Linked DNA regions of Homo sapiens. The protein of the gene in region 1 purifies or fractionates together with the protein of each later gene. This does not show direct contact. Each region holds a gene or a part of one and is shown on either strand. Other genes may lie near its edges.

Region 1 (3,500 bases):
CTCGCTCACCTGGAAGACCCGTCAAGCTCCCTGCCCATGTCCTGTCTGTCTCCGAGCCTCTCCTCTGCTGCCTCCCTGCCCCTCCCTGGCCCAGGTGGAGACTCACCGCCTCACTGGACAGGAATGTGGCCTCCAGCAGTCGGATCTGCCTGGGGGGCAGGAGGCTCCCGAGCCCCATACCCTGCAGCTCACCCACCAGCTTGGGGCTGTTGATGATGTCACTGCAGGCAGGGGAGGCTGGCATGAGGACAACTATACCAAATCAGCACCACCACTCAAGCTAGAGCCCAGGCCCTCAGCCTTGGTCTCTGGCAGGCCCAGACTGCCCAGCACACCCTCCCGCACCCCCACCCGGTCCCCATTTCAGATGATGGGTCCTCCATCTACTTAGTTTGGTTTGGAACAGAAACTCTGAAGTCATCATGCCTCCTCTGACTCTCTCACCACCCCCCCCCCATTAGGTCCTGCTCCAAAATAGCCCCCAAAATCAGCAGCCTCATGCCACTCTGGCGCCCTGGCCGGCTCCCATCAGCTCCCCGCTGGCTCACTGCAAAAGCCTCCTCCCGGCCTCTCTGCTCCTTCCCTCACCTCCAACAATTCCTTCTTCACCCAGCAGCCAGAGCCACCTTTAAGATCTGATCTTCTTCCTGCTCCAAGACTACCTGTCACCCAGATAAAACCCTGCTCCTACTCACAGCAGCCCTGGAATCCAGCCAGCTCCCAGCCCACTGCGCTCCAGCCCTGCAGGTCTTGGGCATCTCACCAGCCCCGGCCACCTCCCAATCCCAGGGGTAGGCCAGAATGGGCAGGAAGGGCTGCCCCAAACTGCTCCACAGACGCATCTTGGCTCACTGTCCTGGCGCCTCTGCAGCGCCCCAGAGCTCCCAGGGGACTGCCCAGCCCTGGCACTTCCTAAGGGCCCTTTGTCTGCCTAGAGGTTTACAAATGACCTTCTCTCTGCCCCTCACCCAATCCAGATGCAGCTGTGTCCCTCCGTTCCCCACATTTCTGGCACACAGGCTTCAACGATGCCCCCCTGGGCACCCTCTCACCAGGGCTCCATGCCCAGCTTGGCTTTAGTTGCCTGTTGCTAACCCCAGGCCAGCAGACCCCGAGGTCACTGGGACAGAAAGACTGGCAGGCAGGGGTGCAGGTGCCCGGCATTTCCTGGTGAGTCAGGACGAGCAAGCGGGAACTGGCTCTGGGCTGGGTTATCTCTCCCGTGGCCCCTGCCCTGTGCCAGTTCCCCTATGCCCTGCTGACTCCTCTCCCACCCTCTCCACTGGACCCTTTCTCTATCCTTCTGCCAGAGGCTGACCCTTCAACACGAACTGAGCCCACAGGCCACCCAAGGCCCCCGAGACGGCAGACACTGCCCACACTGTCTATACCTCCAGGCTTCCTTCCTAAAGTTTCACACTAGGATCTGGGGCCAGCAGTGGCCAAGCCCCACAATAACAGCCCCTGGACTCCCCCGCCCTGGGCCTTTCCACACTGCAGTAAGCCTCTCTCCATGCAGACCGTGCGAATGACGGGCACGCCCAGGGATCTATGGAGTCAAGGGACGCCTGAGGCTGTACTCAGCAGGGGTACCAGCTGCACAGCCAGCCTCCCACCTGAGGGGCTCCAGCTCTGCGGCGGGCTCACAGGGTAACCCTACACAATGGGGGTCTAACAAGACACGTGGCCCTAGCCCATCACTTGGAACTCTCCTGCCTGGGGGTGCCCGCATAGCTCTGCTCAGCTCCAGAGTGCCCTGGAAGAGGACATGCTCAGGAGCACCGACCTTCCTCTCACCTTCTCCCCTACCTGCCCTATCACCCCTCCTCCTGCCTCCTGGCCTGATTCCCTGGCTCAGAGAAGGACCGCTGGCTTTCACCTCCTCCAGGCTGGCTTCCCTGACTTCTCCAGGCCTGCTTTGGGCCCATGCTCTGCACGGGGCCTGGCCTCTGCTGCCACAGCCCTTCCAGCTCTGGATGGTTATTGATTGCTTTGCCCCCTCCTCAGACTGGGCGCTCGTGAATGAAATCCCTACCATTTTCTGTGCCTCAGTTTCCCCAACAGCAGAATGTGACTGAGGCCCAGGAAATTAAGGATTCCAAGAGCAACGCAGACCCAGCCCCAGCCTTATCCCTGTGTCCAGGCCCAGTCTCTGCCTGTCCAGGCTCTGCCCCAGGGAGTCCAAGTCCCACCCCTGCATTCTCGGACCCAAAACTCTGCAAACACCGACCTCACTAAAAGCTGCCGGCGGCACACCTCGACACCCCTCGACACCCCTCCTACAGAGGACACCCTCCCTGCCGGCCCGGGCCCAGCCCCTGGTCTGCTCACTTGGGGTAGAGGTTCTGCACCCAGAGCAGCAGCATGTAGGTGTCGCGCTCGCACAGCTCGAACTGCGCCACGGCGGCCAGGTGGGCCGCGAAGTGCTGGTGGTAGCTCTCGGCGTAGGCCGCCACGACGCCGAACTCGGCGGGGAACAGCGGCTTCAGCCGCTCCACCACGGCCTCCAGGTCCTCCTTCATGGTGCGGCCCAAGTGCAGAAAGACGCTCTCGGGGACCTCGGCGCCCGCGGCCGGCCGCTGGCCCATGCGCTCCTCGGCCGCCTCCGCCACGCCGCGCCGCCACAGCTGCAGCCAGCGCCGCGGGCGCGTGGCCGCCAGCCCCGAGGTCCCCGGCCCCGCCGCCGCCGCCTGGCGGTCCTCGCGCTCCTGCTCCGCCACCACGGCCAGCGCCTGGCGCAGCCGCTCGGGCGGCGCCTCCAGCGGCCGCCGCAGCACGCCCAGCACCTGGTCGCGCAGCAGCTCGTACAGCGCCTCCACCTTGCTCTGGCGCCGCACCAGCTCCTCCTCGCTCACACCGCCCGCCGCCGCCGCCGCCGCCAGCTCCCGCTCCAGCGCCAGCAGCGGCCGCGCCGCCTCCAGCTGCCCGCGCTCCAGCGCCGCCTTCAGCTCCTCCACTGCGCCGGGAAAGCCGCGTCAGCCCCGGCCCCAGCCCACCGCCCACCGGGCGGGGCGGCCAGCGCCAAGCGGGACCGTCCTCCCCTAGACGCGCACAGGGCCGGCGGCCAACACCCTAAAGGGTGATGTCGGTGTCCCTGACTAGGCTGAAGGCCTCCCAGCCCCCCAGATTGCGGCACAGGTGAAAGCAGGGAGACAGACGCGCCTTCCAGCCCCACTTGCCGGCCCACTGTGCAAGTGGCTCACTCACGCGGATGAGCGCCAACCCCGTCCAGGCCCCAGACTAGCTCTAACCCAGGGTCCTAGAGCACCTGTGGGGGGCGGGCCATCCAGCCCCTGCCTGGACCCGGCTGCGTCCTCGGGCTCCGCTGAGCTGGGCTGACCCTTCTTCTTCTTCCCTTTGGTGAAGACGCAGAACACATTGGCCAGGCCTTTGGACTTCTTCTTCTTCTCCTTCTTCTTCTTCGCCGCCTCTTCCTCCTCCCTATATGGGGCTGCCCCAGCCTCCAGGGGTGGCACCAGGTCCTCAGAGGAGGCCTCCGA
Region 2 (3,500 bases), on another chromosome or scaffold:
TTTCACCAATGTGTTCCTGCAGTTCTGAGTGTATCCATAAGCTGGGCCATAGAGAGAATTTGTGTGTAAAGCAGCTTGTTTTAGAGCCCCTGGAAATGAATGAAAATTTAGAAAACAGTAAAATTGATGAGACTTTGACTATAAAAACTAGGAGTAAATGTGATTTGTATGGTGAAAAAGCCAAGAACCAGGGTGGGGTTGTTTTAAAGGCAAGCGTTTTAGAAGAGGAGCTCAAAGATGCCTTAATACACCAAATGCCACCTTTTATTTCTGCACAGAAGCACAGGCCCACAGACAGCCCAGAAATGAATGGTGGCTGTAATTCAAATGGACAATTCAGAATTGAATTTGCGGATTTGTCACCTTCCCCATCCAGCTTTGAAAAAGTTCCTGATCATCACAGTTGCCACTTACAGCTTCCTAGTGATGAATGTGAACATTTTGAAACTTGCCAGGATGACAGTGAAAAAAGCAATAATTGCTTTCAGTCATCTGAACTAGAGGCTCTGGAAAATGGGAAAAGGAGTACTTTAATATCTTCAGATGGAGTTAGTAAGAAATCAGAAGTCAAAGACCTTGGTCCCTTAGAAATTCATTTAGTACCATATACCCCAAAATTTCCAACTCCCAAGCCCAGAAAGACACGAACTGCTCGTCTGTTACGCCAAAAGTGTGTAGATACTCCTAGTGAAAGCACTGAAGAACCGGGGAATTCAGACAGTAGCTCTTCCTGTCTTACTGAAAATAGTTTGAAAATCAATAAAATCAGTGTTCTGCATCAGAATGTTTTGTGTAAGCAGGAACAGGTGGATAAAATGAAGCTAGGAAATAAAAGTGAATTGAATATGGAATCCAACAGTGATGCACAGGACTTAGTCAATTCACAGAAAGCCATGTGTAATGAAACAACTTCCTTTGAAAAAATGGCACCTTCTTTTGATAAAGACTCTAATTTGAGTTCTGACAGCACAACTGTAGATGGTTCTAGTATGTCGCTTGCTGTGGACGAAGGGACCGGTTTTATAAGATGTACTGTATCTATGAGCCTGCCTAAGCAGCTCAAATTAACTTGCAATGAACATTTGCAATCTGGGAGAAACCTGGGAGTTTCTGCCCCTCAAATGCAAAAGGAATCTGTTATAAAAGAGGAAAATTCTCTACGAATTGTCCCCAAAAAACCTCAAAGACATAGCTTGCCTGCTACAGGAGTGCTTAAAAAGGCTGCCTCCGAGGAGCTTTTGGAAAAAAGTTCTTATCCTTCAAGTGAAGAAAAAAGTTCAGAGAAGAGTCTAGAAAGAAATCACCTTCAGCATTTGTGTGCCCAAAACCGTGGTGTGTCATCCTCCTTTGATATGCCTAAACGGGCTTCAGAAAAGCCAGTGTGGAAGTTACCTCATCCTATTTTACCCTTTTCAGGGAACCCAGAATTCTTAAAGTCTGTCACCGTATCGTCAAACAGTGAGCCTTCAACAGCCCTAACCAAGCCCAGAGCAAAATCGTTATCTGCTATGGATGTGGAAAAGTGCACTAAGCCTTGCAAAGACTCTACAAAGAAAAACTCTTTTAAAAAGTTGCTCAGCATGAAACTGTCCATCTGTTTCATGAAGAGTGACTTTCAAAAATTTTGGTCCAAGAGTAGCCAACTCGGAGACACCACCACAGGCCACCTCTCCAGTGGGGAGCAGAAGGGGATTGAAAGTGATTGGCAAGGCTTGTTGGTAGGAGAGGAGAAGAGAAGTAAACCCATCAAGGCATATTCCACAGAAAACTATAGCCTGGAATCTCAAAAGAAGAGGAAGAAGTCTCGGGGCCAGACCAGTGCAGCTAATGGTCTGAGAGCTGAGTCTTTGGATGACCAAATGCTCTCCCGGGAGTCATCATCTCAGGCACCTTACAAGTCTGTTACAAGCCTCTGTGCACCGGAGTATGAAAATATACGCCATTATGAGGAAATACCAGAGTACGAGAACTTGCCATTTATTATGGCTATACGGAAAACTCAAGAGTTGGAATGGCAGAATTCCAGCAGCATGGAGGACGCTGATGCAAATGTGTATGAGGTAGAAGAGCCGTATGAAGCTCCAGATGGCCAGCTGCAGCTTGGACCCAGACATCAGCATTCCAGGTAACAGGTGCCAGACAGACACTTTTGCATGCATCATTGCAATTAACCTTCAACAGCCTGGTGAGTTAGGAATGCAGGGGGAAAAAAAACACGTGGTTGAAGGAATAGTTTAGAAAATGTGTAATTATTCTCAAGTGCAGCCTCCTTTTAGCATACAGTTGGAATGGGTATTTGCAATACAAGCTTGAAGTAGTTAATTTATTTTAGTAACCGATTCAAAGAATTTGAACCAGTGGCAATGTAGGTGCTGCTGCAAGGAAGGCGTGGAACAGAGAGGTCCTGGGCCTCCAGACACCAGCTCAGAAGTCATATCAGGAAACCTGGGGCAGGAAATTGGCCAATTCAATGACATTTATTTGCTAGGTATAAGAAGTCTGAAGTTACTGAAATATGTAGGCATTTACGTGTGGTGCGCTTATCAGGTGGAACCTCCACATTTTTAGAAGTTCACCACTCTTTGAAGATTGGTCATTTTACCTGTTGATGGCTAATTGCTGACCTCAAGTGGATATAGGAAAAATGCAGGAAACACGTAACTACTCTTTATTTCTCACTTTTAAAATAATTTAATTAAAAAAAAATTTTTTTTTTGAGATGAGGTCTTACTCTGTCACCCAGGCTGGAGTGCAGTGGTATGATCATGGCTTACTGCAGCCTCGACTCCCCAGGCTCAAGGAGTCCTCCCATCTCAGCCTCCTTGAGTAGCTGGGACTATAGGTGCATGCCACCATGCCTAGATAATTTTTGTATTTTTTGTAGAGACAGGGTTTTGCCATCATGCCCAGGCTGGTCTTGAACTCCTGGGCTCAAGCACTGCTCCTGCCTTTGCCTCCCAAAGGGTTGGGATTACAGGCATGAGTCACTACACTGGGCCTATTTCTCACTTTTGTGTGTGCACTTCCTACCTGTGGAATACCTACTCCATCTCTCTTATTAAAATCGTGCCCATCCTCAATAATCCACCCCCTCAGTCTTTGGCTTCATTAAGCTTCTACAATTACCTAGTCAGAAGTGTTTACTTCCTATTCTGACCACCCAGTTATGCTGTGATATCCTTTCATCTCAGGCTGTCTTAATGTATAACTATTTATTGGCATGTCTGATGTTCTGTATTTGGTTTTAAGCTCCATGAAGAGTTCTAGTCATCTCTTTGCCCTGGATAAAGCCAAGCAAGAGGCCTAGTAGAATCAGTAGATGTTGATTGGGTCTAAGAGAGAATGAATGAAAATAGGCCAAGAGAGCAACCACTGCAGCGGCTTCCTTCTCTCCATAGTCGCATAGGTAGCTTTTCCATTGTATTTCTAATGTTTGTTTGTGTTTAACAAAAAAGCACATGGACCCTTTTGGAAATCTTTAGATTGTTCTTAGTCCACTA
Region 3 (3,500 bases), on another chromosome or scaffold:
GAGTGGGAGGATTGTCTGAACCCAAGAGTTCAAGATGGGCCTGCACAACAAAGCAAGACCCATCTCTACAAAAAATTTTAAAATCAGCCAGGCATGGTGCCATGCACCTGTATTCCCAGCTACTTGGGAGGCTGAGGGAGAAGGATTGCTTGGGCCTAGGAGTCTGAGGCTACAGTAAGATAAGATTGCATCATCACACATCAGCCCAGGCAACAGAATGACACCTTGTCTCCAAAAACAATGAAAGAAAAGAAAGGAGGAAGCGGGGAAGGAAGAAAAAGAAGGGAAGGAAGGGAGGAAGGGAGGGAGGGAGGGAGGGAGGGAGGGAGGGAGGGAGGGAGGGAGGGAGGGAGACATAAGTTAGTAAAACTGAGGATATCTGGGATGAGAACCTGCCTGTGTGTACAACTCTGGATGGACACACGCACGCGCGCGCACACACACACAGAGTTATCCTAAGGCACTTAGTTCAGCATCTTTATTTTCCATGAGTGCATAATAATATTCGATTATTTTGCTGTCCACAGTCTAAGCAGTCTCCTACAGTAGGATATTAAGTTATCCTAACACTATTGGCAATACTGCAATAACATTTGTCTTCATCTTTGAATCTTTTTCTGTTTCTATAGGATCAATAAGGACATAAATTTTGCTAGGTGAAAAGGTATGAATTTAAGATTTTTGATACATGGTTCCAAATTGTCTTTAGGAAAAGTTGTGTCAATTAACCTTCCCTAAAAAAAAAGTTATCTTTGCCAGGCACGGTGGCTCATGCCTGTAATCCCAGCACTTTGGGAGGCCGAGGTCAGGAGTTTGAGACTAGCTTGGCCAACATGGTGGAACCCTGTCTCTACTAAAATTACAAAAATTAGCTGGGCGTGGTGGTGTGCGCCTGTAATCCCAGCTACTTGGGAGGCTGAGGCAGGAGGATCACTTGAACCCGGGGAATGGAGGTGGCTGTGAGCTGAGACTATGCCCCTGTACCCCAGCCTGGGTGACAGAGTAAGACCCTGTCTCCAAAAAAAAAAAAAAAAAAGTATCTTTATCTTACACATACGTATTTCATAGCACTGTGGGGAAGATTAAATGAAGTAATACCTAAAAGCTCTTTAAGAAGTACTTGAAACATAAGAACGTTCAATGTGGGCTATAACGATAGTTTTTTTGTTTTGTTTTGTTTTTTCTTCCCCGAGACAGAGTCTTGCTCTGTCGCCCAGGCTGGAGTACAGCCATGCAATCTTGGCTCACTGCAAGCTCCACCTCCCAGGTTCACACCATTCTCTTGCCTCAGCCTCCCGAGTAGCTGGGACTACAGGTGCCCGCCACCATGCCCGGCTAATTTTTTGTATTTTTAGTAGAGACGGGGTTTCACAGTGTTAGCCAGGATGGTCTCGATCTCCTGACCTCATGATCCACCCGCCTTGGCCTCCCAAAGTGCTGGGATTACAGGTGTGAGCCACCGCGCCCGGCCCAACAATAGTTATTATTTGGAAATTTCAAATTGGGACTTTCTGGACTGGCTAATAAACTGGGTGGGTCTAGTTAGAGACAAAGCTAAATGACAGCACATGCATGCTATCCCTTTGTTCCTTCCAGCGGTACCAACACACCAGTAAGATCTTTCCAAAAATCTCTCTCCTTCATGTTTCCTAAGCTGGCTATACAACAAAAGAAAAGGCCCATTTGACAAATACATCAACCCCACTGCTCTCATAAAACACACACCCTCTCCTGGACATACCATCACACTTAACAATGACTGCAAGAGAAAAACACAAGAAACTGACTTTATTTATGAGTAGTTATTTATTTATGAGTAGTTGTTTGAGATACTGACTACTAATAAAATCAGATTTTCAGGATCTAGTACGGACTTCATTATGCTATTTGATAAATCACTAGCTGCCAAAGTTTTTGAGGGATAACAATAACTTTATCTGCAGGGATGAGGGGAAGAAATTAGATGTATTCAAAAGAATGTTTTTAATAATAAACAGAGGAAAGTCAGGGTTGGTTGTTGTTGTTTCTCCAGTAACCTGCAGTTAATAAACTCAGCTGGAGCCTGTATTAAATTTCAGATAATTCAACCTACATCAAAAAATATGGGCCATTTTACATATAATGCTCTAAGCAATCTGTTGGGCCCAAAGGGCAAAAGATACACCCATATTATTCTAATTAGAACAAATTTAAATACAGAAGCTAAAGAGAAACATTTAAGAGCACAGTAGCTGTCCCAAGAAATCTATGATGAAAAGATCTAAGTTTTTAGATCTTTGAGCATTTGTTACTTCTTCTATTTTACCAAAACAACATAAATATATAGTTTTTAAAGTTTATAACAAAAATCAGTAGTTCACTGCCTCAACCCTCCCACCCGTTTCCTACTCTTGCAGCTGTTTCTTACATTTTAGCTTTTGCTATCTACTTTCTAACAGGAAGATGCCTTCTACAACTCCCTCACTACACTCATGCTTCTCCCAATATGGAAAATCAATATTCACAGCTTACATTATTAACATGATAATGTAAATACTGCTCACAGCTGAACCAAATAGTATTCTATGACTACATTTCATTTCTCATTCAAGTTCTTAGTAGTTGGGTTTTTTTTTAACCACCAAGTTAATGGCTGTTTCTCTAAGCAATACAATGCTTTTAACACACAAAAAGTAAGCTTAAGTCACAAGCAGAAGGCCAGGCATGGGTGAGGTGAATCTGAAAGAATTATTGGTAACAGCATTTACAGCTAGGTTGTATTGACTTAAGAAGTTTGTTCCACATGTCATCATATTCCAGGGTTTTCAGGCTATAAAAGATAAGGAGTGTCTACTGATATAGGAAAAGGACACAATGCTGGAGAATATTTCTAAGTTCACAGACAGATGATTCAAGCAGGCAATTCATATAGCTGCAGGAGATTCTTACTATTTTCTTGTTCTGAAGGTAAGAAAAGAAAGTGTTGAACACTTTAAGCTAATTTTTAGCTTGCTTGCTGAAAAGATGCCCATCTAAACGGATTTCCCAAAATAGTGATTCAAGCAGAAAATCTCTGGCTTCCGAATCTTGTGTGGCATGAATAATTCCCACCTAAATTGGATGGTTTATAAATTTGACTCTCATGTTTTGACCTCTAAAGCAAGACATTTGTGTAGCTTTCTAGGAGGAGTTTCCAAATTTATAAACTTTGCTTTTCCTCAGAATTATCGCTGCCAATTCACATACTGGAAATGCACATGGCTCCTCTTCCTAGAGTTCTCTCTCCAACTGTTTTCTTCAGTCATTAATAGAATCGTCTGAGGACTTTTTTCAAAGAAAGAGTGCCTTAATTCTGAACCATGAAAAATCCTGACGGACTACTTTAATTTTTCTTTTAAGCTAGGCATATATATTCTACAATAATTTGAAAGTTTCTGAGAATATAAATTTTTTTCAGAAACAATTATAGTGCAAATCACCAATATTATTTTTTAAGCATTTAAAAAATATCAGACACAGTT
Region 4 (3,500 bases), on another chromosome or scaffold:
CTACAATTGCAGGCCATGGCTGATAAACAAAACAAAACTTTGAACAACAAAAGAGGCCAGTAATTAGCCTCTATGGCACCCAGCATCCAGAAGGGAGCTGAATGCATCCAACCAGTGCCGTCCAGCTGATCAGCCTCTGAAATTTGTAAAGCACTGTGACACATACCTTATCTCTTTAATCTAACCACCTACTTGACAAAGTTGCTGGAATAGGGAAAAATGAAGTCCAAGGCAGTCAAACACTATCCAAAGTCATACAGCTAGTGCACCACAGACAGGGGCTAGAGCCCAGCTCTCTTGGCATTAAGCCCATTCTCTGCCCACTGTACCTCCTTGACATCACTTCTGGCCACTCCTCATCTTGGGCCCCATAATGAGGTTTATAACTGGATAACTAAGCACAGTATAGGGGGATGGTGGGAGTCGAGGGTGAGTCTCTCCTGTCTTCCTGCAGAACCATCTAAAACAGCCCCCAAGAAAGAAATGGTTACAAGAGCCTATGAAGAAACTTAAGCCCATCTCTACAAAAAATAAAACATTAGCCAAGCATGGTGGCACACGCCTATCGTCCTAGCTACTAAGGAGGCTGAGATGAGAGAATTGCTTGAGCCCAGGAGTTCAAGGCTGCAGAAAGCCACGATCATGCAGCTGCACTGCACTCCACACTGGATGACAGAACGAGACCCCGTCTCAAAAAAAAAGAAAGAAAGAAAGGAAGGAAGGAAGGGAGGAAAGAACTAAGTATCAGAAAACAGAAACTTGTATTAGAGATGAAAATGCCAACTACAAATCAGCATGGACAGAGTATTTAAATCATGGTCCAGCCAATGGCAGACTTTATTTAATACAATGTTCTGGCAATTGAAGACTTTAATCATTTCCTTACCTGGAATCAAAGAGGGTGCCATCCAGAAGCGTGCCATTGTAATGATACCTGAGAAAGTCCCCACTTTGACTTATCCGCTCACAGTTTTCAGGTACTACCTTGTTCTCAATGGAAATGCTGTCCTTGGGGTTATGGAGGTCCAATAATGCAACATCAAACACCAGAGATGCCTGACCGGGAATGTCTTTCCCTAGAATGGAATGGGAGAAGATGATTAAACGGGACACAGGATTTAGGAAGTACTTTACAACTCAACAGGCTTGGGGTTGGTGTTATTCATTTCTTGAGGTTTTGAAGCCAAGGAAACAAATGTTCTTCCAGGTCTTGAATGGGCCCCCATGGTGTCCAACCATGGGCTGATGGTATAATCTAAAACCTGACTCAGCAAAAGGAGAAAATTGGTATTAATGACATAAGAGACTACCATGACCATATTTTCTGGACTCATGCTGGAAAATCAAGGCTTTATGTAGGTGGGCAGGCACCCACAGGCAAACCCAAATACATACCTCTGTGGGTTTCTGTTTGTGAATAAATGCAAACCACAGACATTTAAAGGAGAAAATTCCAAATCTCTGGTCTGGTTCTGGAGAACTGTACACAGACTTGTTCTTTGAAACGAACGGCCAATTTTTTAGAGGCAAAAAGTAAAACTCAATGCTTTAAGTATATCCAAAGCAAGATATAAATAAGATGAAAGCAGAATAACAGAGAAAAAAATGGCACCCACAATCCAAAATATAAATAAATAGTCCTCAAATCACTTCTATCTCACTTCTGGGTAGTACTGCTTCTCTTGGATGTTCCTGCCAGTGGGAATATTTTGAATATCTGCAAAATGAAATCCACATGAAGAGATTACAGGACACTAGTTCTTCCTGCAAAGATCAACATCAACCAATAAATAACTCAAAATCCAGTAATTTGGGATAGTAGAAAGTTAACCAACAAACCAATCCCTCAGTTTTACCTGCCATTTGTTATATCATGCAAAGGAGTAGGCCCAGACAAGCAAACCAGATGCCGCCAAGCCTGAGCTCCTTCCACTGGCCTTTGGCAAAGCCCACCCTGCATCTCCTTCCCATCCAAGGAATGATGAAATCTGCTGAAAGCCGGCTGCTGAGTCAGCCCCTGGAATGCAAGGTGTGGTCAATCCCTAAATCGCATGCGTGGGAGATAGAATATTAATCTTTTGTGCCTTACTGTATCTTTTCATTTAAGAGAAAAATGAAAGCCTTAAAAGTAACCATGGGGTTTAAATTTTTCTTTTCTTTTTTTTTTTCTTGAGACGGAGTCTCGCTCTGTTGCCCAGGCTGGAGTGTAATAGCTCAATCTTGGCTCACTGCAACCTTCGCCTCCTGGGTTCAAGCGATTCTCCTGCCTCAGCTTCCCGAGTAGCTGGGATTACAGGCACCTGCCACCACGCCTGGCTAAATTTTGTATTTTTAGTAGAGACGGGGTTTCCCCATGCTGGCCAGGCTGGTCTTGAACTCCCGACCTCAGGCGATCCACCCAAATCAGCCTCCCAAAGTGCTGGGATTACAGGCGGCAGCCACTGCGCCCGGCCTGGGGTTTCAATTTTTCTAGCATTAATGTGTACTAAATGAATAATGTTTTCTATAGCAACTTTGCAGAGATATAATTCACATACCATACAGTTCACCCATTTAAAGTTATACTTGGATAGCCGAGCACAGTATTCAAGTATAAAGTATTCAAAAATAACTACTCTAAATAAGCTATTATTTATTTAAAGTAAAGAAATAATATTTCTCATATTAGGCTCACATCTGGTTTTGTTATGTGGCTGATGACAAAAGGATCTGGGAGCCAACGTGAATGAACTTCTTGGGGCCAAGGACAAGACCATTTGAACATCAATAAGAAAACAGTAACTGCCAGGCACAGTGGCTCCCACCCGTAATCCCAGCGCTTTGGGAGGCTGAGGTGGGAGGATCGCTTGAGTCCAGGATTTCCAGGTAAGCCTGGGTAACGTAGCGAGACACTGTCTCTAAAAAAACTTTTTTAACTAGCCAAGCATGGTGGCACACGTCTGTACTCCTAACTATTCGGAAGGCTGAGGCAGGAGGATCACCCAGGAGTTTGAGGTTACAGTGAGCTATGATGGTGTCACTCCAGTCTGGGTGACAGAGTGAGACCCTGTCTCTAAAAATAATAATAACAGTATCTTATATCTCAGTGGGGGGGAGAATTAAGACATATTTATGGCACTGCTTTAAACTTTATTTTTCTTTTAGTAGGGAATTCCACCCCTAATGCTCTGTTTAAGAAACCATCTGCAGATCCCCAGCATGTAAAATATATAAAAGTGGGCCAGGCACAGTGGTTCACACCTGTAATCCCAGCACTTTGGGAGGCCGAGGTGGATGGATGGCTTGACCTCAGCAGTTTGAGACAAGTCTGGCCAACATGGCGAAATGCTGTCTCTACTAAAAATACAAAAATCTGCCAGGCATGGTTGCATACGCCTGTAGTCCAAGCTACCCAGGAGGCTGAGGCAGGAGAATCTCTTGAATCCAGGAGATAGAGGTTGCAGTGAGCCGAGATCGCACCACTGCACTCCAGCCTGGGCAACAGAGTGAGACTCTGTCTC
Region 5 (3,500 bases), on another chromosome or scaffold:
CTCAACATCCACATGCACACTGTCCTAAGGGCAGCACCCTCTTGGCCACTGCCATTGTCTCCCACCCCTACTTGATGTCTCCTAGTAATATATGTACTGTGTCCCCCCCTCTGCCGTCTGCCCATCGTGCTAGGCCAGATAAAAAGGGGTGAGAAGCACTGCAGGTTCCTGTAAGTGAAAGGAACCCCAGAATACTGAGAAAGCAAAGGAAGGCGATAACTGAAACAAGAAATGATATGATTAATGGTTTTAAAAGAAGATGATGACTGAGCTAGGACCCTTGCCCAGTTTCTCAATTAGCACTTTTGGGGTCTAAGGAGACTGGATCATTAAATTGAGGCAGTGGGTATCAAACATTGTTTAATGTTTTTGTTTGCATTGTAGGGGGCTTGAAAGAGTGGTGGGATGGAGGTGTTTTAGACCGAGGGAAATCTGAACGGTCTCATCTCCTCTCATCTCCATCCAAAACATTCCCCAGTCAGCCAGATGGAAACTCCTTGACTGATGAAAATAATCCACAGTCAGGTGTGATTTCGAGGTGAGACCTGGAACAGTGCTTGGCACAGAGTAGGTGCTCAATATTTGTTGAGTGGACGAATGTATCAAGGCGTAATCAACCCAAGAGATATTTGCCTTTCAAAAAGAGGGTCCAGACAAGTAAAATAAATCCCTACTTAGAACCTCTTACTTTGCCTATCACTGTTTCTCAATGTGGGTGCTATAAGCATTTTGGATAGAAAAATTCTTCACACGTGCCCAATTCTTGAAGGTTCTGCAGAATGTAGAGTCTTAGCATCCCTGGACCTTGGGAACTAAATACCAGGGGCATCCTCAGGCACTGTGACAACCAAAATGCCTTCCCACCCCTTTGGCTCCCAAACCAATCTCCCTGTGGCAGTCAGGCTGCTTCTCCCTCCCAGGTACCCCATGGTCTCTGGGCTTTTCTGCCTGGCTTTGATCTCAGCTTACCAAGTCCTCAATGCCTGTTGCCTCTCTTTTTAACTGGGCGCAATTATACTTAATCACTCAAATCCTATCTCTTCTTTCTTGACTCTTTCCTGACCATCTCACCCAAAGCCCATCTTTTCATTTACTTAGTGATGTGAATACCTCCCTGAAAACACTTCCTTGGCAAGTAGCTTTTCTGGGCTTCTGTTGGCTTGAAGGCCTATCTTCCTATACATTCTTCTGCCTCACTTTCTAAGTTCAAGCAACAATGAATGTTTAGGTTCCTCTGCAGAACCATGAACTATCATTTTCAGGCCTTTTAGATGCTCTTCTCTCTACCTAGAATCTATTTCTCTTCATATCATCTCACTAATTTATAATTATTCTCAGATACCAGCTGGGATACCCAGTGCTGAGATAGTTGCTCCTTCTATAGGCTCCATGGTACTACGTTTCTCTATTATTACTCTTCTTATCGTTACCCATTTGGAAGTTAGCCATTTACTTGTTATACCATTCATTAGACTGTAAGCACCATGAGGGCAGAACATGTCTGGCTTTTTTATAGTTCTCCAGTGTTTAGCACATTGCCTAGCATCAAGCAGGGATTCACTAAATAGGGGTCATGTGTCTGGTTTCTTTTCTTATGGACATTTCTCATCTCACTATCGACCACGGTAGGAATTCTGTTGTTCCAGCTTCTTCACTCTAATCACCAAGCTTTGCATATGACAAAAACTTAATAAAAAACAAAACTGAGAAGATAGTTTCTCATCATATGTAGACTATATGTTTATAAATTGTTGTCAAAGCTATTGAAATCTGTGTCAGAGTGAAAGACAAGGGAAAAAAGCTGTGATTAAAAATTGCTCAAATAGATCTAAAAGTCCTTTATGCTTTCAGTTAAAGTTCCTTCCTTCCTTTCTTCCTTCCTCCCTCCCTCCCTTCCTTTCTTCCCTCCTTCCTTCCTTCTTTTTTTTGACAGAGTCTCCCTCTGTCACCCAGGCTGGAGTGCAGTGGCACAATCTCGGCTCACTGCAACCTCCGCCTTCCAGGTTCAAGCGATTCTCCTGCCTCAGCCTCCTGAGTAGCTGGGACTACAGGCATGTGCCACCACACCCAGCTAATTTTTTGTATTTTTAGTCGAGATGGGGTTTCACCATGCTGGCCAGGCTGGTCTCAAACTCCTGACCTCAGGTGATCCGCCCACCTTGGCCTCCCAAAGTGCTGGGATTACAGGCGTGAGCCACTGTGCCCAGCCTAAAGTTTCTAATTTTAAATATAATTTGGCAGTTTTCAAAAACACTTATCCCTATTCAATGTGTAATTTTTCCCATGTAAATTTTTCTATGTCATAAATATAGATTTTTTTGCAAAATATAGACCAGTAATTCTCACGCTTACACTTGTCTGACAATTAGATCAATTGGGAAGTTTCTATAAATACATATTTATATTGTAGTGAGCCCGCCCCAGGGCTCACTACACTCACACACCACAGAATATTAGCCTTGGAAACTTTAATTTAGCTTATCGGGGATTTCTAATAATCAGAGAGTACGTAGGCCAATGAATGCTCATATCTCTTTGTAAAGTACTTGCCTTAAGTTATAATTAAAGAAAATTTCTGTTAAGAGCTGCCATTTTCCCATTACCTACTAACTTTTAGAAACAAAAACCAGTAAGAAATCCATGTTTCTAAAATCCTTGGATATGATAATTGATTATTCTTATGGCTTCAATATTCACCATCTAATTTATACTTTAATGTATTCTTTAATATATATTATTCAGTTGTATATTAGAACACTAAGCATAACTCTGATATTATTGATAATTTATAGATACTTGAATCCACTTGTTATGGATCAAATTATGACCCCTAAAAGATAATATATTGAAGTGCTAACCACCAGTACCTCAGAATGTGAGCTTATTTGGAAATAGGGTCTCTGCAGATTTAACCAAGCTGAGGTCATTATTTTGGGGCATAATCCAGTACAACCGATGTTCTTATAAAATGGGGAAATTTGGACAAGGACACAGACATGCACAGAGGGAAGATGATATAAAGAGACAAAAGAGAGAATGCCATGCGCAGATGGAGGATTGGAGTAATGAATGCACCTACAAGAGAAGGAATGACAAAGATTGCCAACAAACCAGTATGCACTTGGAAGAGGAAAGGAGGGAAACTGGTTTCAGAGGGAGCATGGCCCTGCCCATATCTTGATTTTGGATTTCTAGCCTCTGGAACTGTGAGATCATACATTTTTGTTGTTTTAAGCCACTCAGTTTTTAGCACTTCGTTACAGCAGTCCTAGCAAACTAATACCCTACTAAATATATCTGCTCACAGTGTGATCTGCTATCATTGAATCCTTAAAATGTAGTTTGATTTTAAAGCACAAGCTTCATTAGTCGAACCCAAAATTGAAGCAACCATCAGGAAATCTCTCACCCACGAGCCCTCCTTGGCAATCTGGCGAGGCCTATGAACCCCTTCTCAGATTAATGATTTCAAATGTATAAAATAAAATACAGGGGATTAT
Region 6 (3,422 bases), on another chromosome or scaffold:
GACTTTCTTTGTATGATTAGGAGTTCTTGGGCCCTTTCTTTCAGTGCTCTTTTATTTTCCCTCTTAAAAGAATATAATCACAGTAGTAGCATATGATAATTTTTTAACTAAAAAAATGCAGAGAAGAAAAAAACCTACATAGTTAAAATTTCTCAACAAGAGAAAGCCACTTTTAATTGATATTTACTCTTGGTTATTTGATAATATTTGATAAACATATAATTCAAGACTTTTCCCCATGAAAACAGAAATATTTGCACATACATGAAATAAATAAATTATACACATGTATATGTGCATGTGCTGGAGAATGTGAGTATAATTATTTTACTGAGACTGTACTGTATGTATACTCCATAACCTTGTAGATACTTTCACAAACACCTCATCCCAAGTTATTCTAAGCCACTTTGCTGAGAAGATTTAACCTGCTTTTTCTCACTTGACAGTGACATAAATATCTTCTCATGTCAATGAATTTAATACTGCTTTCCTATTTTTTCAGCCATGTATTCTCATATCTCTTTTCAATATTGGTAAACAATAAGGTTATATAGTACAAAAGCATCTCAGTTTTCTTCAATTTTTTTCTTGAAGTTTTTTTAAATATAAAAATTTTTTCATTCTGCTTGTCTTCTGTTCATTCTATTTGTAAAAGAAAATGAGAAGTCCACTGTTTTATGTCTTATAAAATGAGGGTGTTGATCCTGATGGAAGTTCTCTTCCAACTCTAAAATTTGAGTTATGAGTGGGCGAAGAATGTTATAGGCTGCCTTAGTGTTTACGCGGGAGCTACGTTCTTAGCTTTCCAGTAGTGAAATACCATGGACAAATGGATGATTTTCACATTAGGGGAGGGGATATTTTATTTCATGTTAGATTGTTGAAGGAGTGAATGAATAGAAGGATGATAAAATGCAAGCAGCTGAAGAAGGAATTATATGTATTTCACATTGAACAGCACATCACTGTTATACAAAAAAGGAAGAAAGAGGTAAAACCTAAACTATTTTTTTTTTGTTTACCTTGCTATTCTCACAGTCCATGTGAAAAAGGAACTAATTTAGTTATAATAATAATTGCAGCTGCGAAGTTCAGAATCTACCAAAAACAGGGAACAGGGCCTTTAATTCATGTTTAGCCCTTATTTTATTATGTGATGCCTATCAGACATCAATGCATGTAATTTTTATTACTTTTTGGTCAACAATTCCATGAGTGTAACTGATTGGCTGAGGCAGTAGGGAGTGGCTGACTAGGATTTATAGGAAAAAACAATTATAGTGATTTACAAGCAAAAGTTGTATTTAAAAAAATCATCCATGATGTAATAAAAGGGAAACTATAAGATAATTTACTAAATCTGTCTGGATAGATATATTAGCAGTTTTGAAAGCTTATATTTGAGCCATATTACAAAGAGCTTTTTATTTTGGGATAGTCTCTTACCTTAAAGCAGTTTTTGAATCTTTTGCTCACCAAATACAGAGCAATTGGGTTAATGCAGGAATTCAGTGAAGCCATGTTGATACCAATATAGTCCAATACCAACAGAAAGCTGCAACAAAATAACCCAAAATGTGTCTGAAAAATATGCTATTCTGAACATGTAGTCATTGTAGCTTCTGTGCTTTTGTAAGGAAAAAAAATGCCAATATACAATGGTTCTAAATTTATCACTCGTCTTTGCTAACAATGATTCTCTGCCTGTCTCTGTCTGTGTCCCCCTCTAACTCTAGCATTTCTACTGACTTTCCTCCATTTCCCCTTCCCAGGCCCAATTCTTCTCTTTTAAAATAAAATCTCATTTGGAAGTACTGAAGCTGGCTGAAAAGAAGAAATTTAGAAAACGCGTTGGAGAATCGGACCTGACATTTTCCGCCTTGGCACTCACTCATCATCTTGACAACTCTGACTCTCTGTACCCAGTGTTCTTCATACCCCCCCTTCCCTGTCCCTCTCAACAGGACCTCAGATAAAAATTGGGAGTCTCCATGACTTCCTAAGGGTTAGAAAAATGGTAGTCTGTCTTTCTGCCTATAAAAAAGATCGATGGAAACACTTCTGAGTGGCATTTATTTACAAAACCATTTCTAGTTTGCCTTTCTTACCTCAAAAGTTCACATCTATTGGGATCATTCTGATTATAAAGAGTGAGCTTCAGAATCCTGCTGAGGTGAAGGGGAAGCCAGCAGAGGGCAAAGACAAGGACCAGGCAAAAGACGGTTTTGGCCACTTCCCGTCTCTGAAATAAATCCATAGTTTGACCCTTAAAAGATGGCTCATTTTACTCATAGCATTCTATCTTCTAAAACGACATTTAATATTGTCTACAAAAAGTCAGTGGCATATGTAAAAACTCAGGACACTGAGCTTTATATGGAATAGTTAATGTGAAGTGGAACCGAAGTGACTAGAGATTCATCTTTAAAAAGTTCTGATTCTCCCTAGATCCTTTTAGATTATATAGAATATCTCCAAATAAATAATATAAAAATATTCTTTATCTATTTAAAACTACCAGAAACAAGAAAAAGGAAATATGCTCTGGTATATAATAATGTTAGTTTATCATCATCATCATCATAATTTTCATATTCATAATTATAAATTCAACCACGAGTTATCAAATATTTGTATTTTCTTACCTGCTTTAGGTGATCATTTAAAGCAATCTGCATGCCACTTTTCTTTCTCAACATTTCACAGGTCATTAGTGTATAAAAAAATGCAGTGATGGCCAATGGCAAGCAGAAATAGAAACTGAATAGCCACCAATCTTTTGCTGTCTTGTAAAACTATAGGGATGAGAGAATTTTTACGATTAATACTCCTCTGTAAGAAAATCTTATATAACAAATGTTAAACTTAAAAAAATTCATCAGGGAATGATTATCTTCTAAATTAGATCCAGTTTGTATATATCATACAGAATCTTTCAGGCCACACTTACTGAACAAATAAATAGTCATGTTAAATAAAACAAATTTTCCCAAAAATATTTCAGTTCTCTAAGACAATGTGTTATAAGCATGCACAAAAACTTAAGTAGTTAGGCAAAATTTGAAATATTTGGTAATTCAATGCTTTGTCTTCACATAAGAAACTTATCCTTAGAGTATTTTTTGTGTGAAATATAACACCTAAATATGTAAAGATAACTTAGTGTTTAGATGAAGTTCTCATTTTTTAGCAAGTTTGTTTAATGGGAACAACAGATACGAAAAGGTCTAGGTTAACCATTTAGCTCAGTAACATATAAATCTAACCTCGCAAAAAGACAAAATCTGCTTTTGACTTATGTCGTATCTCTTATTCTTTTTCTTCTCTGTTATCTTTTTCATATTGCTTTAGATATATCTGTGTTGGAGAGGAAATTATGTAACCTAGGCAGCACTTTTTTTTTCTTTTTACTAATAGGA
Region 7 (3,500 bases), on another chromosome or scaffold:
AGAGGTTCTGTCCTCTGGGAGAACCTCCCAGATAAGAATGAAGCCTCCTCCCTCCCTCCCTTCCCCTCTGCACAGATGCAGCTGAGTTCAGTGCTGCCTCCTGCTGCCACAGGCCTTGGGACCTCTGGCTGCTGGTCTGTTTGGCATGACGTAGATCATACCTCCTTGGCACGAGGCCATTGAAACAGGTCAGAAGTGTCAGAACTGGCCTTGCTTTCATGGCCTATGCTGGCCACACCTGACAGTACTCTGCTCACCATAGGACAATGGTGTCCCTCCTCTCAAGATCTCACAGAGCTATGGAGAAGCCCAGGGGAAGCGGCTGGAGGCAGGACTGCCCTTCCCAGGACCTGCCAAGCCACCAGCAGTCTTTTGAGGAATCCAGACAGTATTCCACCTCCCTCAGCCTTAACCCTGAGACTCCCACACTTTACCCACTCTTCCATTTCTCCAGCCTTCCAGCTGTACGGCGGGAGCAGCAGGTGCTACAGGGAAGACAAGGGATAAATAGAGCCATGGTAGGGTTGCAGACTCACCTTTGCTTAAGACAATACAGGGTCTATTGCTACCTCCACAAAACCACCTCCTCTGGCTGCACCGAGCCTTCCCTCTGAACAGCTTAGGGTCAGGGACTCAGGTCAAGCCACTTACAAGGCAGGGCTGGGCTTGCCTCCAAGTAACTGCCAGGCCACCTGTGGCTCATGGGGGCCTAGACTCGGGGCTCCATAGGCATTAGGCCCTTGCTTTTCTTTTATTTGCTGCCTTATTTGAATTCTACCACCTTCCTTTTTTTTTGTTGCCAGCTGATGCCAGGACAGTGAAGACAATTTAGACAATTCAGCCCAGGGAAAATATTAATATGGTCCAGAATCCCACCAACCAGAGATAACACATTTCCATCTTGATGAACATTCTACCAGACATTTTCATGCACAAATTGTCTTAGTCCATCACAGCTGCTATAACAGAAGTCCATAGACTGGTGGTTCATAACAACAGAAATTTATTCCTCATGGTTCTAGAGGCTGGGAACTCCAAGATCAACGTTCTGGCAGATTCGGCGTCTGGTGAAGCCCACTTCCTGGCTTATAAATGGCTGTCTTCTTGCTGTGTCCTCACATGGCAGAAGGAGTGAGGCAGATCTCTAGGCCTCCTTTATAAGGCACTCCTCCCATTCATGAGCACTCCATCTTCATGACCTAATCTCCTCCCAAAGGCCCCACCTTCTAGTACCGTCACCCTGGGGATTAGGTTTCAACACAGAATGGGGGTAAAGGGAACATAAACATCCAGCCTAAAGCCCAAATGTATCTCTATAAACAGAATTAGGAAGTGACACCTTGACTTTCCCTCCAACAGAACATTTCCATCCGGAGTGTGGAAGGAGAGATATACTGTGCCAAGTCAGGCAGGAAATTCGCTGGCCAAATCCGGGAGAAGTTCATCATCTCGGACTGGAGATTTGTCCTGTCTGGATCTTACAGGTGAGCCTTGGATTCATCTCCTGTCAAGGATTCATGGAGAACAAGGGCTGAGTGAGGTGCAGACCAGCTCCCGCTGCTCAGACACAAACACCCCCAGCAGCTCCCAGAAGGTCTCCCTCTGCCCGGAGCTGGAGCTGCATCACATAGATGGGGTGAGAGGCAAGAAATGTGGACCCTTTCTGGCAAGAATTCCAGGTAGAGAGGCATTTCCAGGTGCCTCCGTTTCCCTTGATATTGCAATAGGACGTAGAATCCTCTTCTTTTCCCTCCTCGGATATCTTAGACGTGATTATAAAGTGATGCAATTTGTTTAGTTGTGTGTGTGCACATCCCATTGCTTTTTTTTTTTTTTTGAGATGGAGTCTCGCCCTGTCACCCAGGCTGGAGTGCAGTGGTGCAATCACAGCTCATTGCAACCTCCGCCTCCAGGATTCAAGAGATTCTCCTCCCTCAGCCCCCCAAGTAGCTGGGATTGCAGGCACCCGCCACCACGCCCAGCGAATTTTTGTATATTTAGTAGAGACGGGGTTTCATCATGTTGGCCAGGCTGGTCTCAAACTCCTGACCTCAGGTGATCCACCCATGTGGCCTCCCAAAGTGCTGAGATTAGAGGCGTGAGCCACTGCACCCAGCCCCGTTTTATTTTTTAAATTTTTATTATTTGCTCAAGCAACCCACCAGCCTCAGCCTCCCAAAGTGTTGGGATTACAGGCATGAGCCCCTGCGCCCAGCCTCAATTTGTGTTTAGACCCTCACACATAGACTCCTACATCCAAATGACTGACCACCCATTTATTCTAACAATGCTACCTTGCCTGAGTCTGCCTTTGAAACTTGACTTCAGAGCTTAAAAGATATTCTTTGAAATGTTCTCAGTGGCGGCGCTAGGGAAGTGGATTTGATGGTGGATTTTGTGAGAGGGATGAAATGAGAGAGCAATTGAGGAAGGGAGGAACAGCCGAAGGTCATTTGGGAACATTTGTTTAGGAAGGTGATGAGTGTGACAGAGAGTGCAGAGGAGGGCAACTGGTTACATCTTTTCTTGCTTCCTCTGCTGCAAACACATAGTAGTGACCAGTGAAATATGAGCACAAACATTGGGATAAGCTGGGAGTGGAAGGCAGGTTTCCAGGGGGTGTTAAGGATGCAGTCTTTCCCCAGGGAGCAGGAGCCCGCAATGCTGTTCCAAAGCTAGGTGAAGCCAACTGGCAAATCTCTAGCCAGAGACAAATGAGCATAAAGGGAAAGAGAGAAGGGAGGGCGGAAAAACCCCTACATTTAAAATGTGCTATCTTTCTTTAGCCTTATTAGTGCCGTTTAGCTGAAATTCCACTTTTAATGATATTAACATTGCTACCTCCAGTCTTCCTTGGGCTTAAATTTGTACAGTGTCTTAGTCCATTTGGGCTGCTATAATAAAATCCCATAGACTGGGTAGCTTATAAACAATGGAAACCCATTACTCACAGTCCTGAAGGCTGGGAAGTCCTAGGTCAAGGTGTGGGCAGATTCAGTGCCTGGGGAAGGCCCACCTTCTGTCTCATAGACTGCTGCCTTTTCACTGTGTGACACAGTGAAAGTGTATCTTTATCCCTTCATGGTAAAAAAAAAAGGTGAGGGAGCTCACTGGGGCCTCTTCTGCAAGGGCACTAACCCCATTCCTGAAGGTTCTACCTTCATGACCTAATTATGCCCCAAAGGCCCTACACACTAATAGCATCACATTGGGGATTAGGATTTCAAATATGAATCTGGAACAGAAACAGACATTCAGTCTACAGCACAGAGTATAACTTTCTCTCCATCCCATTATTTTCAAACTTGCTGATAGATTTTAAGTGTGTCTTTTGTGAACAACATATCATTAATTTTTGTTTTTTTGAGACGGAGTCTCGCTCTGTCACCCAGGCTGGAGTGCAGTGGTGCAATCCCAGTTCACTGCAACCTCTGCCTCCCAGGTTCAAGTGATTCTCCTGCCTCAGCCTCCCTTGTAGCTGGGATTACAGGCACCCGCCA

What was found.
Region 2: the proteins of TNFAIP2 (region 1) and FGD6 purify together in Homo sapiens (affinity purification with mass spectrometry, with the first as the bait; one large-scale study listed by BioGRID). This does not show direct contact.
Region 3: the proteins of TNFAIP2 (region 1) and ENAH purify together in Homo sapiens (affinity purification with mass spectrometry, with the first as the bait; one large-scale study listed by BioGRID). This does not show direct contact.
Region 4: the proteins of TNFAIP2 (region 1) and FKBP9 purify together in Homo sapiens (affinity purification with mass spectrometry, with the first as the bait; one large-scale study listed by BioGRID). This does not show direct contact.
Region 5: the proteins of TNFAIP2 (region 1) and DSG2 purify together in Homo sapiens (affinity purification with mass spectrometry, with the first as the bait; one large-scale study listed by BioGRID). This does not show direct contact.
Region 6: the proteins of TNFAIP2 (region 1) and EDNRB purify together in Homo sapiens (affinity purification with mass spectrometry, with the first as the bait; one large-scale study listed by BioGRID). This does not show direct contact.
Region 7: the proteins of TNFAIP2 (region 1) and FAM83A purify together in Homo sapiens (affinity purification with mass spectrometry, with the first as the bait; one large-scale study listed by BioGRID). This does not show direct contact.

Annotation. Positions count from the first base shown.
Region 1 is NC_000014.9:103,126,461-103,129,960, reverse strand, and holds part of TNFAIP2 (tumor necrosis factor alpha-induced protein 2), read right to left. Parts: coding exon 3,269-3,500; intron 2,957-3,268; coding exon 2,332-2,956; intron 222-2,331; coding exon 107-221; intron 1-106. UniProt on the Homo sapiens protein: May play a role as a mediator of inflammation and angiogenesis.
Region 2 is NC_000012.12:95,207,468-95,210,967, reverse strand, and holds part of FGD6 (FYVE, RhoGEF and PH domain-containing protein 6), read left to right. Parts: coding exon 1-2,125; intron 2,126-3,500. UniProt on the Homo sapiens protein: May activate CDC42, a member of the Ras-like family of Rho- and Rac proteins, by exchanging bound GDP for free GTP. May play a role in regulating the actin cytoskeleton and cell shape.
Region 3 is NC_000001.11:225,520,624-225,524,123, forward strand, and holds part of ENAH (protein enabled homolog), read right to left. Parts: intron 1-3,500. UniProt on the Homo sapiens protein: Ena/VASP proteins are actin-associated proteins involved in a range of processes dependent on cytoskeleton remodeling and cell polarity such as axon guidance and lamellipodial and filopodial dynamics in migrating cells.
Region 4 is NC_000007.14:32,977,940-32,981,439, reverse strand, and holds part of FKBP9 (peptidyl-prolyl cis-trans isomerase FKBP9 isoform 1 precursor), read right to left. Parts: intron 1,984-3,500; exon of another isoform or gene 1,864-1,983; coding exon of another isoform or gene 1,857-1,863; intron 1,077-1,856; coding exon 887-1,076; intron 1-886. UniProt on the Homo sapiens protein: PPIases accelerate the folding of proteins during protein synthesis.
Region 5 is NC_000018.10:31,501,177-31,504,676, reverse strand, and holds part of DSG2 (desmoglein-2 preproprotein), read right to left. Parts: intron 1-3,500.
Region 6 is NC_000013.11:77,898,410-77,901,831, forward strand, and holds part of EDNRB (endothelin receptor type B isoform 1 precursor), read right to left. Parts: intron 2,799-3,422; coding exon 2,649-2,798; intron 2,246-2,648; coding exon 2,112-2,245; intron 1,559-2,111; coding exon 1,450-1,558; intron 1-1,449. UniProt on the Homo sapiens protein: Non-specific receptor for endothelin 1, 2, and 3. Mediates its action by association with G proteins that activate a phosphatidylinositol-calcium second messenger system.
Region 7 is NC_000008.11:123,192,665-123,196,164, forward strand, and holds part of FAM83A (protein FAM83A), read left to right. Parts: intron 1-1,359; coding exon 1,360-1,484; intron 1,485-3,500. UniProt on the Homo sapiens protein: Involved in mitochondrial maintenance during adipogenesis. May be acting by playing a role in the maintenance of normal mitochondrial function.